Homo sapiens: one gene and its partners. The protein of the gene in region 3 interacts with the protein of the main gene of each other region in a biochemical or structural test. Each region holds a gene or a part of one and is shown on either strand. Other genes may lie near its edges.

What was found.
Region 1: the proteins of GRB10 (region 3) and RAF1 form a complex in vitro, tested with the Homo sapiens proteins (one study listed by BioGRID).
Region 2: of the proteins of GRB10 (region 3) and FYN, one has a biochemical effect on the other in vitro, tested with the Homo sapiens proteins (one study listed by BioGRID).
Region 4: the proteins of GRB10 (region 3) and ABL1 form a complex in vitro, tested with the Homo sapiens proteins (one study listed by BioGRID).
Region 5: the proteins of GRB10 (region 3) and CNOT9 form a complex in vitro, tested with the Homo sapiens proteins (one study listed by BioGRID).

The regions. Positions count from the first base shown.
Region 1 is NC_000003.12:12,608,597-12,612,117, forward strand, and holds part of RAF1 (RAF proto-oncogene serine/threonine-protein kinase), read right to left. Parts: intron 3,467-3,521; coding exon 3,354-3,466; intron 740-3,353; coding exon 637-739; intron 328-636; coding exon 170-327; intron 1-169. UniProt on the Homo sapiens protein: Serine/threonine-protein kinase that acts as a regulatory link between the membrane-associated Ras GTPases and the MAPK/ERK cascade, and this critical regulatory link functions as a switch determining cell fate decisions including proliferation, differentiation, apoptosis, survival and oncogenic transformation.
Region 2 is NC_000006.12:111,660,432-111,663,952, forward strand, and holds part of FYN (tyrosine-protein kinase Fyn), read right to left. Parts: intron 1,517-3,521; coding exon 1,308-1,516; 3' UTR 1-1,307. UniProt on the Homo sapiens protein: Non-receptor tyrosine-protein kinase that plays a role in many biological processes including regulation of cell growth and survival, cell adhesion, integrin-mediated signaling, cytoskeletal remodeling, cell motility, immune response and axon guidance.
Region 3 is NC_000007.14:50,671,383-50,674,903, forward strand, and holds part of GRB10 (growth factor receptor-bound protein 10), read right to left. Parts: intron 3,277-3,521; coding exon 3,054-3,276; intron 1-3,053.
Region 4 is NC_000009.12:130,838,243-130,841,763, reverse strand, and holds part of ABL1 (tyrosine-protein kinase ABL1), read right to left. Parts: intron 1-3,521. UniProt on the Homo sapiens protein: Non-receptor tyrosine-protein kinase that plays a role in many key processes linked to cell growth and survival such as cytoskeleton remodeling in response to extracellular stimuli, cell motility and adhesion, receptor endocytosis, autophagy, DNA damage response and apoptosis.
Region 5 is NC_000002.12:218,592,830-218,595,221, forward strand, and holds part of CNOT9 (CCR4-NOT transcription complex subunit 9), read left to right. Parts: intron 1-698; coding exon of another isoform or gene 699-744; exon of another isoform or gene 745-1,018; intron 1,019-1,278; coding exon 1,279-1,447; 3' UTR 1,448-2,392. UniProt on the Homo sapiens protein: Component of the CCR4-NOT complex which is one of the major cellular mRNA deadenylases and is linked to various cellular processes including bulk mRNA degradation, miRNA-mediated repression, translational repression during translational initiation and general transcription regulation.

The DNA of each region.
Region 1 (3,521 bases), on a different chromosome or scaffold from region 3:
AAACCTAGCTAGTTTCAGAATTATCACTGTTTCTAAAGTAGTTTCTGGATCACAATTCATTAAATGAGTCTAGAATCCAGACCTGTCAGTCAAAATCTACAACAAATACCCTTTAAAGTATGTATACTCCTCATCCCTATCTTCCTTGGATAAAAGAACAATGCCTTACAAGAGTTGTCTGATGTTACTCCAGTCCACACACATAGTAGGTACTTTGGTGCTACAGTGCTCATGAAATTTGTAGCCACAAGTCTGACATCGAAATCCATTGAGCAGGAATTTCTGACAGATGTCACAGAAGGCAAGCTTCAGGAACGTCTTCCGAGCCTACAACAAGAACACAGGTGTAAATTATGCTGAATAAATAAAAGATGACAAAAGACAACTTCATTTCTTGGCCTCCAAAAAAGTTTTTACAAAATGAATCATACTTCCAGCATGTACAGAATTCATAATCACAAATTAGAGTATATCTCTGACTAATGAAATCTAAATTGCCTTACTGTAAACAACAGCATAAAGAACTTTAAACAATCCAACTATATATATATATACATACGCATATTACCTGAGAAATCTCTGTTATGCCTGGCAAAGCCCTCAACATGCCAGAAAGAGAAGAGATCTGCAACTTACAAAGTTGTGTGTTGTGAGGGGAACATGATCCAGGAAATCTACTTGAAGTTCTTCTCCAATCAAAGACGCAGCATCAGTATTCCAATCTAAGCGTGCTTTTTTACTAGAAAGGATTTAAAAAAAACATGAAATGTTTAAACAAGATCAAAGTTCAATAGAAATAACAACAGCTACCATTTATCACATGCCATATAAACACAACTTTATTTAATCCATACAACAATAATTTATTTAATTCATACAACAAACCTATGAAGTAGGTATTATTTCTATCTGAAAAATAAGAAAACTGGGACTCTAAGAAGGTAATTTGCTCAAGGCCACACAGCAAGTTTAAGGGCCTATGTTGGAATCTAGGTCTGTTGAACTCCAAAGCCCATGTTCTCAGAATAAAGTTTTCTCTTTATTTACTTAAAAAAATGTTTTTTGGTAGAGAGAGAGTCTTGCTGTGTTGCCCAGGCTGGTCTTGAATCCCTGGCCTCAAGCGGTCCTCCTGCCTCAGCCTCCCAAAGTGCTGGGATTACAGGTGTGAACCACCATGTCTGGCCAGAATAAAGTTTTCTTTAAACAATGATATATAAAATCTCACAATAAAGTCAATATACGTTAAATTGGAATTTGTAACACTAAAATCTTACAAAAATCCCCAAATCCTGTAAAATGGATTATAAATATTGCTGCAGTACAAAATTTAGTCTTCAGTAGCCTATTTCAATCTAGATAAATAGAAAGGAACCACAAATGAAAAATGTACTTTTCTATTAATTAATAACAGACTCAAATCTGTAGTTGTAGGGTCTATAAGTCAATGAGAAACTTAACTGTCTTAAAATCTACTCTGAAACCACACTTTCTGTGCCTACAGTATAAATAAGACAAAAAATAGATACATAAGTAAAAAGTAATGCCCAATTCCTTTCTTATGTTTTATCCAGTTAATCTGGCCCATTTTCCAAAGGAAGAATATTCTCAGGTAAAGAGAAAATAACATGTATAGCACCATTCAAGCCTCTCCATTATCTACCAGAAGCCTAGTCAAGCCATTTTTCTCACTATCCAACAGTAAACAATACATTCCTTAATATAATTACCTATACAGCACCTGGAAAACTTCCTATAACTCCAAAGGACTATTTTGCCCTTATGAAGAGAAGGAGGACAAGCCTTATTTTCTCATCAATCTGCAGACTGATCCTAGTGACAATCTGCTGTCTGTCCTAGAGACTCCAGAGTAGCTCCAAACCAGTGCAGCCTTGGATGAGAGTAGACCAAGCCCTCCCTGTCTCAGAATCTCTCTAGTCCTTAAGGAACACTATGGATTGGCTTAGGGACCCAACCTGGGCTACCTTCAGCAAAAGTTAACGTCTGCTTCAAAGATTTGCACTTCAACAAACGCCTCCTAAATTGAGAATTACACTCACCCCTTCGAGTAGATTCATTCCCTGGGCTATTCTCCCAAACTGCAGAACTCTTTGAAACATGAAAAAATGTAAGCTAACGATGAATAACATAAGTGACGCTTTCCAAGAAGAGGGTAAAAAAGAACCCTTTAAAGGTTTCCCTATATTTTCGGGGTGGAGGGAATAATGGATAATGGATAATTATGGACAGCTCTGCTGCTTTGAGGTATTACTCCTAGCCTTTGAGGGGATGCCTCTATCTTGCCACCACCATTAGGAATAGGATAAACCATGAATCTTCCCTGAAGCAGAAATGCTTCTGCATCTTTAAACAATCTATCAAACAGCAGGGATTAGTACACATTTAACTGAATAAAAAAAAAAATTAGTGAATGAGAAAAGTCAATCTCCCGAGGATAGCATTCTTTATATAAAATAATGCACTTTCTGAGTGCCCAGTCTATATAATGCATTAGAGTAAACACAAAGAAAAATCTTTGTCTCAAAAAAACACAGCATCTAACATCACTGTTTCCATCCATGGAAACATTATCAATACCTAACATGTGTTTGTTTTTGTTTTTTTGTTTTTTGGCTTTTTTTAATAGACAGGATCTTGCTCCAGCCCAGGCTGGAGTCCAGTAGCACAATCATGACTCACTGCAGCCTCAAGCCCCTGGGGTCATGCAATATTCTCACGTCAGCCTTTCGAACAGCTAGGACTACAGGGCCGCACCACCATGCCTGGCTAATTTTTAAAAATCTTTTGTAGAGATGGGCCTTCGCTATGTGCCCAGGCTGGTCTTGAACTCTTGGCCTCAAGCAACCCTCTTGCCTCAGTTTCCCAGTGTTAAAATTACGGGTATTACCATCCTGGCTAACACGGTGAAACCCCGTCTCTACTAAAAATACAAAAAATTAGCCGGGCGCGGTGGTGGGCGCCTGTAGTCCCAGCTACTCCGGAGGCTGAGGCAGGAAAATGGCGTGAACCCGGGAGGCGGAGCTTGCGGTGAGCCGAGATCGCGCCACTGCACTCCAGCCTGGGCGACAGAGCAAGACTCCACCTCAAAAAGAAAAAAAAATTACAGGTATTGGTCATCAGGCCCAGCTTAACGTGTATTTAACTTTTCAAGAGAATGTCCAAGCAATAATTTCAATTTCTTAATACCTATTTTTCTGAATTATCTCTTTATAAAGAAAGGTATAGAAATATACAATATTCTATAGGAAGCTAGTACAATTTAATACAAACATAGCTATTTGAAGCTAGAAGATCCTTACTAGTCTGAAGAAGTCAATTGACTTTTGAGCTCTTACCCTTTGTGTTCGTGGAGAAGTCTGAACACTGCACAGCACTCTGGTTGCAGGCCCCTCACCTTGAGTGCTTTCATAAGGCAGTCATGCAAGCTCATTCCATTTCGCACATTGACCTACAAACAAAGGACCACCTTTAGGACCAACACAGGCTGCAGCACCCCTTGGAAA
Region 2 (3,521 bases), on a different chromosome or scaffold from region 3:
ACTTCAGAGTTGCTAGTCAGTATTAAAAACTCAATAGAAATAGGATTTTTGATTTGTTGTTGTTAAACATATGTAATTTAAGGTTGGTACAAACAGCAACTAAAAATGTAATACTTTTTTGTTTTTGTGCATCCCCATGAAATGTAAAGTAGTGCATAGTTATTCCACTGGAGAACTCCTGGACATATAGAAAGTCATTCGTTAGCAGTACAGGACATTTAAAACACTTATTTTACAATGGGAAATGTACAACCCCCACCCTCATTTCCCCCAGAAATTTTAGTTGCATGAGAAAGTTTAGCGGGTTGCCATGACTACAATGCTATGGGTTTTAGATCACTTAAATGTGGTTACAGGTTTATTAAATTAAAAATGTCTGAAACATTTCAGCATTCATATTTTTATACAAGAAGTTTGTGTGGTATCCATCTTCCAGTTCTCTTGGTAGTATCAGCCATTTGCTTGCTTATTTTTAAGTTTTGAGAACAAATCGCAGTAAGTTGAAGCAAATAGTGCTAACAGAACTTGTAAATTCAGCTTGGGGGGTGGTTCCTGAAAAGAGTCAAAGTAACAACCACCTACAGGTACAGTCATGAACCAGGAAAGTGCAATCCAAATGAAAAAATTCATGCTTTGCAAAAGCCAAAAATGAGGCCACTGGTGTTTTCAGAATAACACCGGTGCTTTGATGCTGACTTGCAGTAAAATCCTCCCTCTGGGTCCCGCAGCTTGGTGGCTCAGGCCGGCCACAGTCTCCACATTAGCACCCACATTGTATATGTACAGGGACATATATATTATATATATTCATATTTATAAAAAAGAAAACAAAAACAAACACCTGTCCTGATTGGTTTTTGTTAAAACATGAAAAAAAATTTTATTGTTTTAGACAAAGAGGCCACTTTTGGAAAATAATACTTTTTTTTTTTTAGTTGAATCAGGTGAAGACAGAGTTAAAATCACATAGGATTTGCATTTTTAAAAAAGGAAAGCACTAGGATTGTTGGCACTGGAGTAACTATTTACACTGAACAGAGGTTTGGCCTTTTACATAACATCGATACAATGCATTTTCCAAAGTCTGAGAAATAACAAGGTTCTGTCTCGAATGCTTCACAGAGGAGGTTCGGATTTGGGGACAAGTGTCATTAATGAGGGCCATGGAAGTTCGTCAGCTTCAGAGTCACATGCAATCTGATCCTGGGCGGTTCCGCTGCTGGGGAGCAGCTGGCTACGGAATTGAAAGCTAATGGGGAGGGGTGGGGCAGCCTCTGGGACAAGGCCTCTCTCCGCAGACCCGGGCCTTACAGGTTTTCACCAGGTTGGTACTGGGGCTCTGTCGCGGTAAAGTAGTCTTCCAGGAAGCTCTGCAAGTACTCAAAAGTGGGGCGTTCTTCAGGGTCCTTTTTCCAGCAGTGGATCATGAGCTCATGCAGAGAGATGGGGCAGTCCTGCGGGCAGGGCATCCTGTAGCCTCGCTCCACCTGCTCCAGCACCTCCCGGTTGTTCATGCCTGCAAAGACAAGCGCAGTGAGAGTGGGCACCCCGGGGATCCAGGCCCTGACCGCCGCACTTGCAGATCCCCTTTCTTCTTCTTTGCGTCTGCATGTGGCTAAAACATGCGGAGTACTCCCATCCCCCCAGGAGTCAAACCCTGCCATGCTACTCAGGAGTAAAGAAGGAGTGCAGAACTGAGACATGAAAAATTCAGAATGACTCTCAAAACATGATAAGTGAAGGAAGCCAGACACAACAGGCAACATACGGTATGATTTCATTCATGCGAAATTCTAGAAAAGGCGCAACTACATCTATAGAAAGCAGATCAGTGGCTGCCTGGGGGAGGGGAGGAATCCCTGCCAAGGGGCCAGAGGGAACTCCAAGTGGGATGGGAATGTTCTGTCAGGGTCAACGGGTCAACAAACTTTTCCTGTAAAAGGCCAGACAGTAAATATTTTTGGCTTTGCGGGTCACATATGATCCCTGTCTTCTTCTTTTTAACAACCCTTTAAAAACGTACAAAACAAACACAGGTTGGGAGCCAGACCTGCCAACCCCTGTTCTATATTATGTATGGGGTGGTGTGACTGTTTATGTTTGTCAAAACTCAATAAACTGCATCCTTAAAATTGTTGAATTTTATTGTGTGTAGATTATACTTCAATTAAACTGACAACAATATATGAATAAAGCAGACAAAAAAATCCACACAGAATGAAAGCATGCTGCCCCTTGTTTATAGCATTTATAAACTCCATTTATGAACTTCATAAATTCGTTTTCTTCATGCCTGGGCAAACTCTTAGTTCCCCACTGTTGGAGATCTGCCATCATGCCAGCGTGGCTGGGCACTGTCTGGCCCTGCAACCCCACAGTGCCCTGAGGTTTGGTGAATTTGATGGGGAGATAGACCATGTCCGGGGCCTATCTCTACTGATGACTTCAGCCAGGCCATCCATCATTTGAGGTTTTTCTGACTCTTGGGAAGCTGTTGAAACACTGGGCTGCATAGCACTAACAGAAGACAGATCGCTAACTCCTCAGAGAGTGCGGCCTCCTGCACACTGGCTGCCTTAACACTACAGGAACTACCATGCTTAGGGGGTGGCCAGTGTCCTGACCTCCTCCCAACTACTGCCAGCCACTATTCTCTAGTTTTGCTTCCCTTTTTCATTGTATCACCTTCTGCCAGCTCCCCGTCAAGCTGTGCTGTGCTTTGGTTGCTTCCTGGCCGGTGAGGCTGTCATCTGGAATCCTCCCCAGTATCTGACCCGGTTAATTTGCAGGAGCAAGAACCCGATGTCAAGCCATATAGAAACCAAGATTTCTTCCCCTATTTCCCAGGGCTACAGCCAGCAGGAGCACACACCATATGCATGGAGCTTCCTTTACTTCTAGGGGAGGTGGCGACCCGTTAGCTAGAAACTTGTCAGCACAGCCAGAGGCGCTGGGCCAGAGCACAGCCTGTCCCCCTGCAGAGGGAACACTCGGACTTCGGGGTCTGTTGCCAGTCCTCTTGGTTGTGTTGTTACTTGTGGAGCTGAGTGTATCCTGGCTCCTCCTGGCTGTCAACCACAGCCTGTCAGTCACATGTCTCTCCAGACCTTTTCAGGATGCTTTCTTATTCTCTGCCATTATCATTTCTTGAGGTAATAAAAATTCACATATTGTTTCTGCTGTACTGAAGTAGGCCTTCAATGCAATTATTGTAAAATAACCTCACTCACGTGTCAGGGCGACCCCTTATTTTAGGGAGAGAGGTTTGGTGAAGGAGTCAGGGTCCCTGCCTCTGTGCCATGCATGCCTTTACCAGCGACTTCCTCAGTTGCATGGGAGGAGTGAGAGGCAGCGCTGTGGCTAATTAGCCTACATCCTCCTCCAATGGCTGAAAATGGGGGATGGGGGCGGGGAGCTGGAAGCAAGGGAGGAACTGGAGCATGCTCGGGAATGAAAGGCAGCCTCCTCCGGCTCTAGATAAACGCGGACAGAGGCCAGCATTTCCTTCTCCACAATTCCAC
Region 3 (3,521 bases):
TGACTGTATTACTTTTTCTCTTTTACCAACTTTCCCTATTTTTTAAAGGAAGATCCAGCTAACTATCCCACGTAGACCAGCAAATGATGCATGGATTTAAAATTACGAGAACTCACATGGCATGAAGGGAATCAGTGCTGCGAAATACAGGAAAGCCGTTCCTATAATGGTTTGATGACATGCCATAAAGTTTATTTTTACTGTGAACAAATCCCACTCTTCCCATAACAGCTTCAGCCTTGGCAAGGCGTCCAACTGAAACGTCTGGCCATTGTCATACAGGAGGAGATGGATAAAACGGGTGGCCAGTGCCACTTTCCCATCCACGGCTTCTAGCCAGTGACTTCACCCCAAAAAGATAATCTGACGTTTTAGTGTCCACAAAAGCTTCTCTATTTATTGGGTTGTTTTGAGCATTTTAAAAAGTCCTGTGTTGACTTTAAAGCGGCTCAGAGACATCGCCTAAGGCAAGACTAAGGGATATCACACAAAGACAAAAAATCCCCACCAAAGAGGCTCACAATAGAAGGGACAGTGACTATGGAGAGGGGTGCTGAGATTTAGGGATGTCAGGGATGGTGGCAGGAACTGCAGAGCTGAGGGGCGAGGTCCTTCTTCTCTGTGCCTTGGCTCACTTGTGTTTGTCTAGAACACATGCGTGGCCCTTGCACTCTCAAAAGCCTGGGTTCCTTCTCTGTACAGAATCGGCTCACCCATCGGCTTTCCTATGTGCAAAGCCTTCTTGCCCTTCCCAAGTGTCTCCTCTGCCCATACCCTGCCTGCCCCCCAGCTCCCTTCGGGTTGCATGGCAGCCCCCGGTAAGTTCCTCTGCAGCGTGGACCATGCTCCGTGACCTCTGGTACCCAGCAGCCTGCTCCATGGCCACTTCCCACCTGATGTGGTGAGCCCAGTTACCGCCCCGCTGTGCCACGGTTTCCTCAGCTGGGAAGCGAGGGTAACCCACACTGCCTCCCTCCGAGGGCACTGATAACAAGGAGGAGCTCATCAGCATCTGCACACAGTAAGCACTCAGCAAATGGCCTCACTTCACAAAATAATCTTTGGTGATTCCAGATTGATCTCCACATTTTTTTTTAATCCACCTGAAAGTAAGAAACAAAACTACTTATCTGAGAGGACACCAGAGAGAAGACATTGGGCCCAAGGAACAGCACCTGTGACCCTGTAGGGAGAGGGCTTTGCTGTCCCACAGAGCAAGCCTGCCCCTCCATCCCAGGGACTTAGCGCAGGTAGTCCCGGGGCACATATGGGCGAGTTCAGCCAGAACTCGAGGTTCAAGGGTCCTGGGCAACTACTCCAGCAGGGAGGCAGGCCTTCTGGCTTTCCAGCCCACCCTCGGGCACCTTCGCCATGCAACTGCACCTCCATATTCCCAGGCACTCCCCAAGGCTACTGTGATGCTCCCAAGAGATGCTCCCAAGAGAAAAACAGCTCTCCCACCAGACTTAACTCCTCAGGAGCTAAGTACAAGGGGTCACGCTTCAAAGAGCAAAGTTGAACAAACCCTGGGACAGGCATCATTCAGCATCAATGAATATGACAAAAAGTGAGAAGTCGGAGGGGAAGCCGGGGTGGGAAGCTGGGGAGGCAGCTGACCACGGGCGCCAGGGCCGCTGCACCCTCTCCCCTCCGTAAGAAACAGCTGCCACCTGGGGCAAGGTGATTATCTGGGCTGCGGAAGACCCAAGATGTCAGACCACAAAGAAAACTCTCAGAAGTTTCTAGAAGCAAGAAGAGCCCAGGAAATGAACAGAGCTCCCCGGAAGATGGGGTGCTGAGACAGAAGGCACCAGAACCCCATCCTGACAGAGGCCAGTGAGGGCAAGGGGCAGTCCCAGCAGAGATGGCTGTACATCCTCCGCAAAGGCCCAGAGAGGCACGCAGGGTCCCACGGAGCCCCACGCCATCCCGACTGCGACAGGGCAGACAGGCGGATCCTTGAGGGCTGCCCCTGGCTCTCAGCTTGATTCTACAAAGATCTTCATTCAGAATGTCTAAGGTACTCTCAGCACCTTCACCTTCGACATGACCATTCTCTAGACACCCTCCTCCCAGGCACTCGAGACAAAATCCAAGTCACCCTCCACACACTCTCTGTCTCCTCACAGCCCTGGCAAAATTCAAGTGCTGGCAAAACGCAGCTGCTCCTCCTCAGCAACGTGCTCAAATCCCCCCTCCTTCTTCATCCTCAGGCAGCGCACAATCATCTCCCATCCGGGGGCTCCTGAGACCACTTCCAAACCGGCCATGCTCTGCCAACCCTGCTGCCCTCTACCACTGCCCCCACGACCCCTGGCAACCAGAATGCTGGTGTCAAAACCCAAACCCAGCCCCTTCACACGCCTGTCCAGAACTCTTTCTCACGTGGCTCCTGAAAAAGGCACACAAAGTGCTTCAGCACCGGCCCCCATCTGCATCATCTCTTCTGCTCACAAAACCTCTGCCTCCATCTATCTGAGCTCCTATCACCCTTTGACATCCGTTCAGAAATCCTACCTCCCAGGAACCTCCCTCAACGTCCCCAGCACGTTCCTCCCTCCAGCCTCCCTGTTTCCACAGAGATGTGCCTACCCCTGAATTAGCAGAGGAATGTGGCAAAATGCAACTCTGAGGGAGGTCTGGGGTTGCACGACAAGCTCCAGGGGGTGCTGTAGCTGCTAGCCTCCCGTCCCTACTCTGGGTAGTGAGGACTTGGGGCATGCAATCAGCTCCATGGCTGTTCTTCCAATCTTTCCAGAGATTTTTCCTCTGGTGGTTTTCCTGCATATCCCTCTACCTAGCACAGTGCCTTGCACATAGCAGGCACTCAATAAAAGGTACTACTGGAATTGAACTGGCTACAAAGTTCAACCCAAGGGCGGCACACTGCACACACTCAGTGTATCCGTTATCCCATCAAAGCAATGTATCTGCCTCTTGACTTTGCAAGACCAACACTATTCCCCCCAACACCATTTAACTCACAGAGAGCAGTGTCCCTGCCGACAGCTCTCATCCTTGGAGAAGGCTCTGCCCATAAGGCCTGGACCTACCTGACAGCGAGGATGTGCACAGGCTGGGAGCGCTGCACCCTCTGCCTCGGGGACACCTGTGGCTGGATGGACCGAGGAGGGCCTGAAGCCCGAGGCTGGCTGCGGGCATGCTGGCCATTCTGCAGGAGGGGCACCGTGTCTGACTGCATGCTGCAGGCCGAGTACAGGCTCTCCAGGGATGCATTCATATCGTTCACCAGGGCTTCCAGGTCCACATCATCCTCTGCACAGAAAAAGGCAAGAGCAAAAAAGAAACTTTAACAATGGAGAGCAATCAAACCCAAATGTACATCTTGGTGATCAGGTTCCAAACCTCAATCCTATTTTTCAAATATTATGGAAGGGGTAGAGGGGAAACACCAAGACAAGTATGACTGTATGGAAGCATGCATATTACATGTATTCATCATGACTGACATTCCAGAGACAATTCAATCATTAGAGCTGGGCTGCATTTCTACCTGTCTC
Region 4 (3,521 bases), on a different chromosome or scaffold from region 3:
CGCGGCTCACTGCAACCTCTGCCTCCCAGGTTCAAGTAATTCTCCTGCCTTAGCCTCCTGAGTAGCTGGGATTACAGGCACTCCCCACTACGCCTGGCTAATTTTTTATATTTTTAGTAGAGACAGGGTTTCAGCATGTTGGCCAGGCTGGTCTCGAACTCCTGACCTCAGGTGACCACCTGCCTCGGCCTCCCAAAGTGCTGGGATTACAGGCGTCAGCCACCGCGCCCGGCCTGAAAACCAATTTCTAGAGCAAGCTTGTTCAACCCATGGCCCACGGGCTGCATATGGCCCAGGACGGCTTTGAATGTGGCCTAACAAATTTGCAAACTTTCTTAAAAACATTATAAGATTTTTGGCCCGGTGCAGTGGCTCACGCCTGTAATCCCAGGGCTTTGGGAGGCCGAGGTGGGCGGATCACGAGGTCAGGAGATGGAGACCATCCTGGCTAACATGGTGAAACCCCCGGGCGCCTGTAGTACCCTCTACTAGGGAGGCTGAGGCAGGAGAATGGCGTGAACCCAGGAGGCGGAGCTTGCAGTGAGCTGAGATCGTGCAACTGCACTCCAGTCTGGGCGACAGAGTGAGACTCTTGTCTCAAAAAAAAAAAGAAATGAGATTTTTGTGGGATTTGTTTTGTTGGTTTAGCTCATCAGCTATCGTTAGTATGTTTTACGTGTGGCCCAAGACAATTTTTCTCCCAATGTGGCCCAGGGAAGCCAAGATTGGACACCCCTGTTCCAGAGTAACGATTCTACCCATCTGAGGACAAAGTTACACTATCAAAACTAAGTAATTATAATTAGCAAGCTATTCTTCCTAATGGCTTTGAAACTGTAACTTTATTATGTAAGAAAACAAGACTGACTATAAGCTGATAATTGTTAAAGCCACATCATAAGTACATGGGAGTTCATTATGCTGTCTACTTTTGAGACAGTTTTAGGCTGGGTGCAGTGGCTCATGCCTGTAATCCCAGCACTTTGGGAGGCTGAGGTGGGAGGATTGCTTGAGCCCAGGAGTTTGAGACCAGCCTGGGCGACATAGTGAGACCCATCTCTATTTTTTTTAATTAAAAAAGAGATAGTTTTAAAAATTGACACTAAAAAAGAACAAACAAACCTATGAATTTATTTTATAAATTGTTCTTCTGTGTGTTTAATTAAGATCCACCATTATGGAGGAAAAGTTAAAGTCTTCCAATATCCCATTTGATCTTTAGTTCTTATGTATTTAAGAAAGCTACCCATTGATTTATTTTCTGCTTTTATTTCAGATCAATGATTATACTGGCACAATTACAATGACTTGATTTTACAAGGTGGTAAGTGGCACCAGATTTTCAGTTTTCACGTTTGAGGCTGTGGAAATATTGTCTCTGGACAGGAGAAATAAAATGCCAACCATGAGCCAATGGGAATTTCTCTTCCACAATGAAAATATTCACTACGGGAATAACAGAGGGTGCGAGGAAGAGAAGACATTTTTCAGCCAAAAATCAAGGACAGGAAGTATTAATTATACGCATCAAAACACACTTAGAAACAAACTGCTTTATTAGCAAGAAAAACTATGGGTGGGATTGGCTGAATTCTGTCATCACTTCAACCATTACAGAAACTGGTAAAGCCACCATTTTAGGCTGCTAAATATTTGCTTAAAGTAACAACAGCTTACTTTTCTGCTAGGCTCTTGTTCTGTGCCAGGCTCCCTGCTAAACAATTTACATGAAGTCTCTCAACAACTCAGTGAGGTAGGGATTACTACAGGCCTTATTTTAGAAATGGGAACACCAAGGTACAGTGAGCCTCGGTGAATGCGCAAGACCAGCCAAGAGCACAGGTGGCATTTGGGTCCAGACTGGCTGGCTCGGGAGCTGCCTGCCTGTGCAGAAGAATGAGACCCTAGGAACGCTGTGTGAGCCATAAACCTGCCTGGACTAAAGAGCATCTCAGAGGAATCTCGTATCAACATAACACAAACATACATTTAACTCTTACCAGTTTCAGAGCTTTCCCTCAATCATCTTATAGACCCTCAAAACAATCCTCTAAGGTGGCTGAACAGAGATTGGTCTCTCTGTCTTAGAGGTAAAAACACGGAAGCTCAGAGAGGTCAGAGGAAAACTGGGATCTCCTGCCTCCAAATTGAAAAGTACTGCCACCTAAACTGGGGCCCTTCCTCTTTTCTAGAAACCTCAGGGCACTGGTGTGAAAATTAAGTGAGGCTGCACATGATGTGCTCAGTGCCAGGGCCTGTGACATTGTAAATGGTCAACAATGTTAATAGCACCCAAAATGAAATGGACAGACTGGCCTTTTATTAGGTAACAGAAAGAGTCTCACTTTCTTTGTTACTGAACAAGGGAAGTATCTGATGACCTCAGGAGAGAGCAGAAAGCAAGCATAAGCTTCTCCAAAGCTCAAGTTCTAAAAGCGTATCTGTATGGCTGGCACCACATGAAGCATCCGCTGGAAAGTTAGCTGCTGAAAAGAAGCATTTAAAAGTGGGCCCTTAAAATAAATTTCGAAAGTTCAGGCTGAGTGCAGTGGCTCATGCCTGTAGGGATGCACTTTGGGGAGGCCAAGGTGGGAGGATCACTTGAGGCCAGTAGTTCAACACTGGCTTGGCCCGGGCAAACTAGTAAAAATAGTGAGACCCTGTCTCTACAAAAAAAAAAAAAAAATTTTAATTAGTCAGGTAGCATATGCCTGCAGCCCCAGCTACTTGGGAGGCTGAGGTGGGAGGGTTGCTTGAGACCAGGAGCTCAAGGCTGCAGTGAGCTGTGATTGTGCCACTGCAGTCCAGCCTGGGTGACAGAGCAAGACCCTATCTCCAAAAGCAACAATAACAACAACAACAAAAAGTTCAAGAAGAGTTCAGTTCACAGACATTAGTTTTTGATTCTACAGTACACAACTGTCACATACATGTACAATATTCAGGCACAATGTATGTAAATACAAACACATGAACAAATGAAAATAAAATGAAAAGAAAACCCTGAATTCAAAAGGCTAGTGTTCATGTTTTCTTTGACGTCTCCAGGGGAAAGAAATAATCAGAAAATTCAGTGTTCAAAGTAGACCGAATATTGCAAAGCTAAATGCGGTCCTGGTGAATAGATACTGCTATAAACATGCATATTCACAAAAAGCTGGAGAGCAAAATTCACATGTTATAATAAATGCTTATATGTGCACACAGTATTTCTAGAAGGACACACATAAAACTCCAGGGTGATTGCCTCTAGGTGGGGAAAATGAATAGGAGAGGGAATTACTTTTCACTAAATACCCTTTTAGGATTTCTTACATACAAGTATTTTTATATACATTTAAAAAAAATTAATCCTACTGTTAAAGCTAATCATTTTGCCAGGATCAGGTTTCTAGAAAAGAAAAAGAGACTACCCTTACATTTCAGGGATTAATTGGAGGAGTTTCTGGAGATACCATTTTGAAAATCACAGTGAATTCCAAAAGAGACATCAGTAGAGCATCCAGTGGCTAAAAGTGGGC
Region 5 (2,392 bases), on a different chromosome or scaffold from region 3:
TCTGAGACAGAACTTAGATTCTTTTAAAAATCTGAAATGCTGAATTTTAGTAGCCATCAGTTTCATCTTCTCACTGTAACTCTCCATCCTACTGTGAAATTCCAGAGAGTCTAGGCGATTCCAAAGGAAACCTTATGATGCATTACTCCTGTTGTTTGAATTTTCTGTTGCTACTCTACGTGGTCAGAGAGAGAAGTATATTTTCAAAGATCTCTTAAAAAGGAACACAGCCCAGAGGGCTCTTGAATTCTATTTCCAATTCTGTCCTTGATTCCTATAAGTTTCTTGAGCTAATTATTTTATCTGCTTATGTTCATAATCTTTCTGCCAGAAATCATACACTGTAGATATAATGCATTTTAGAAATGTTTGACCTTTTGCTTTGTAAATCCATAATTCATGCTGAAAGCAACCTGCTCATATTCTGCTAAACCACGTAATGGAGCAATTTCTGTGTTCCTGGGAAGAGAGCTAGCTTGATTTGATTTAATGTGAACTCAGTCTCCTGCCACTGAGTTTATTCAAGCCCTACCTGTTTGTTGACCATTTTATCCTGTTCTTCAGTGGTTCTTGTTTCACTAAAGTTTAAAAATGTGTTTATTTAAAATTCTACTTGTACAAAGAAAACTAGTCTGAGTGCAAAAACTATAACTTTGTTTAAAATAGCTCTACACATAGTTAACATTTACCTTTTTTAGGTTTTCAGATTTGACTTTCTGCTGGTCATCTTTTCAAAGAAAATGAAACGTTTAAAAGTTCATCTGATAATACTGCTACCATAGTTTTGTTTTCACTGCTCATCTCTTATTAAGGTTTTTAACCATAAAACTGAAGCAATTTCTGTAAAGACACAAATTGATAACTTAGTATAGAATTAAAATTCATTAAGTTATCATAAGTTTGATGATATCCTTGTTAATGTACTGATTTTTGAATTATTTTATTTGCCATAATCCATATATTTCTAACATGAGTATTTTGACAGTATTTAATAAATCAGAAAGCTGTTTGAATGGAAGTAAACTATTGAACCTTTTAATTTTGCTTTTTCATGAAATTCTACATTGGGGCATCATTCAGAAAATATTTGTGGATACAGATTTTGGAGATCTCTAAGCCTATGCCTAATATAGCTTTAGAGAATTTTAATGGCTTCTTAAGGAGCCATAGATTCACAGTATTCTAAATATTTATGTCTAAGAAGGGGGCTCTTCCCTGTCCACAAAATGTGGGTTTATTTGTTGGTCTCCCTGGTTGGTTTGTTTGTTTCTGATGTAGGGCACGTGAAGCACTCAGACAGTGCCTCCCTGACCAGCTGAAAGACACAACCTTCGCCCAGGTGCTAAAAGATGACACCACCACGAAACGCTGGCTTGCACAACTGGTGAAGAACCTGCAAGAGGGCCAGGTCACCGATCCCCGGGGTATCCCCCTGCCCCCTCAGTGATCCTTCCCTGTTCCCTCCCACTACTCCCCCAAGTTGGGGAAAGGAGGGGGAACCTACGAGAAAAACAGCTCAGGTTTTATCACCGACTGGGAATAGACAACCTCAATGCTGAACCGCACTGGAGAAAAGGGGCAAGGTACCCCTGCTGAGGTGTATGGGCTGCCATCTCAGGCTGTCTTGAGGACCTGGGCTCCCTCTGCTACTCCCAGGAAATGGGCTCCTGACACAGCAGTCTGCCACCACAGCCCCAGGAGGGTGTCAACACCAGCAAATGCTGTATTTGCAGCATGTCCAAGATGACCCTTCTCCCCTACCTCTACCTAGCCACTGGCAGGGAGGGGAGACAGTGGTGATAGCAGCAGCACTCTAGGCATGGTGAACGCCTGGGACCAAGCCATGTGGCGTTTTTTATTTTGCCTTTCTGGAAGACTCAAGATATGTCTCTTCATTCTCTCTCAGTATTTGTTTACTTTGGTTTTTTTGTTTTTAATCTCAGAGAGAGGTGTGTTTAGTGGGCACAAGCTGTAATATTCAGCAAAACTTTGTCGACTGGCACTGTTTACAAGTCTGTTAGCTGCATAAGCTCAATAAAAAGTTGGTCTGGGCATTACATCCCCTCTGGCAGGCCAATAGCTGCATCAAGCTGTTGGGAGAAATGGGAGGGCAGGGGAAAGATGTAAAGCCAAAGTACAGCAGGAACCCACCACCTGTTTCCCTTCCTTCTCCCATTCTACTCCCAGTCCGGAATGCCACGAGGACCTTAACCTTGTTTCTGGCTTTAGCTGCTAGTTTTCCCAAATCTCAGTGCTTTCCCTTTTTGAACTTCCCTTCTATTAAACTTAAAACAGATGTCTTAATTAATCAGGCTGTCTTGGAAGGGTATTGTATTGGGAGACAAGGGGCGGTGGTGGACCTCACCTTCAATCCAAGTTTTCAAAGATATTT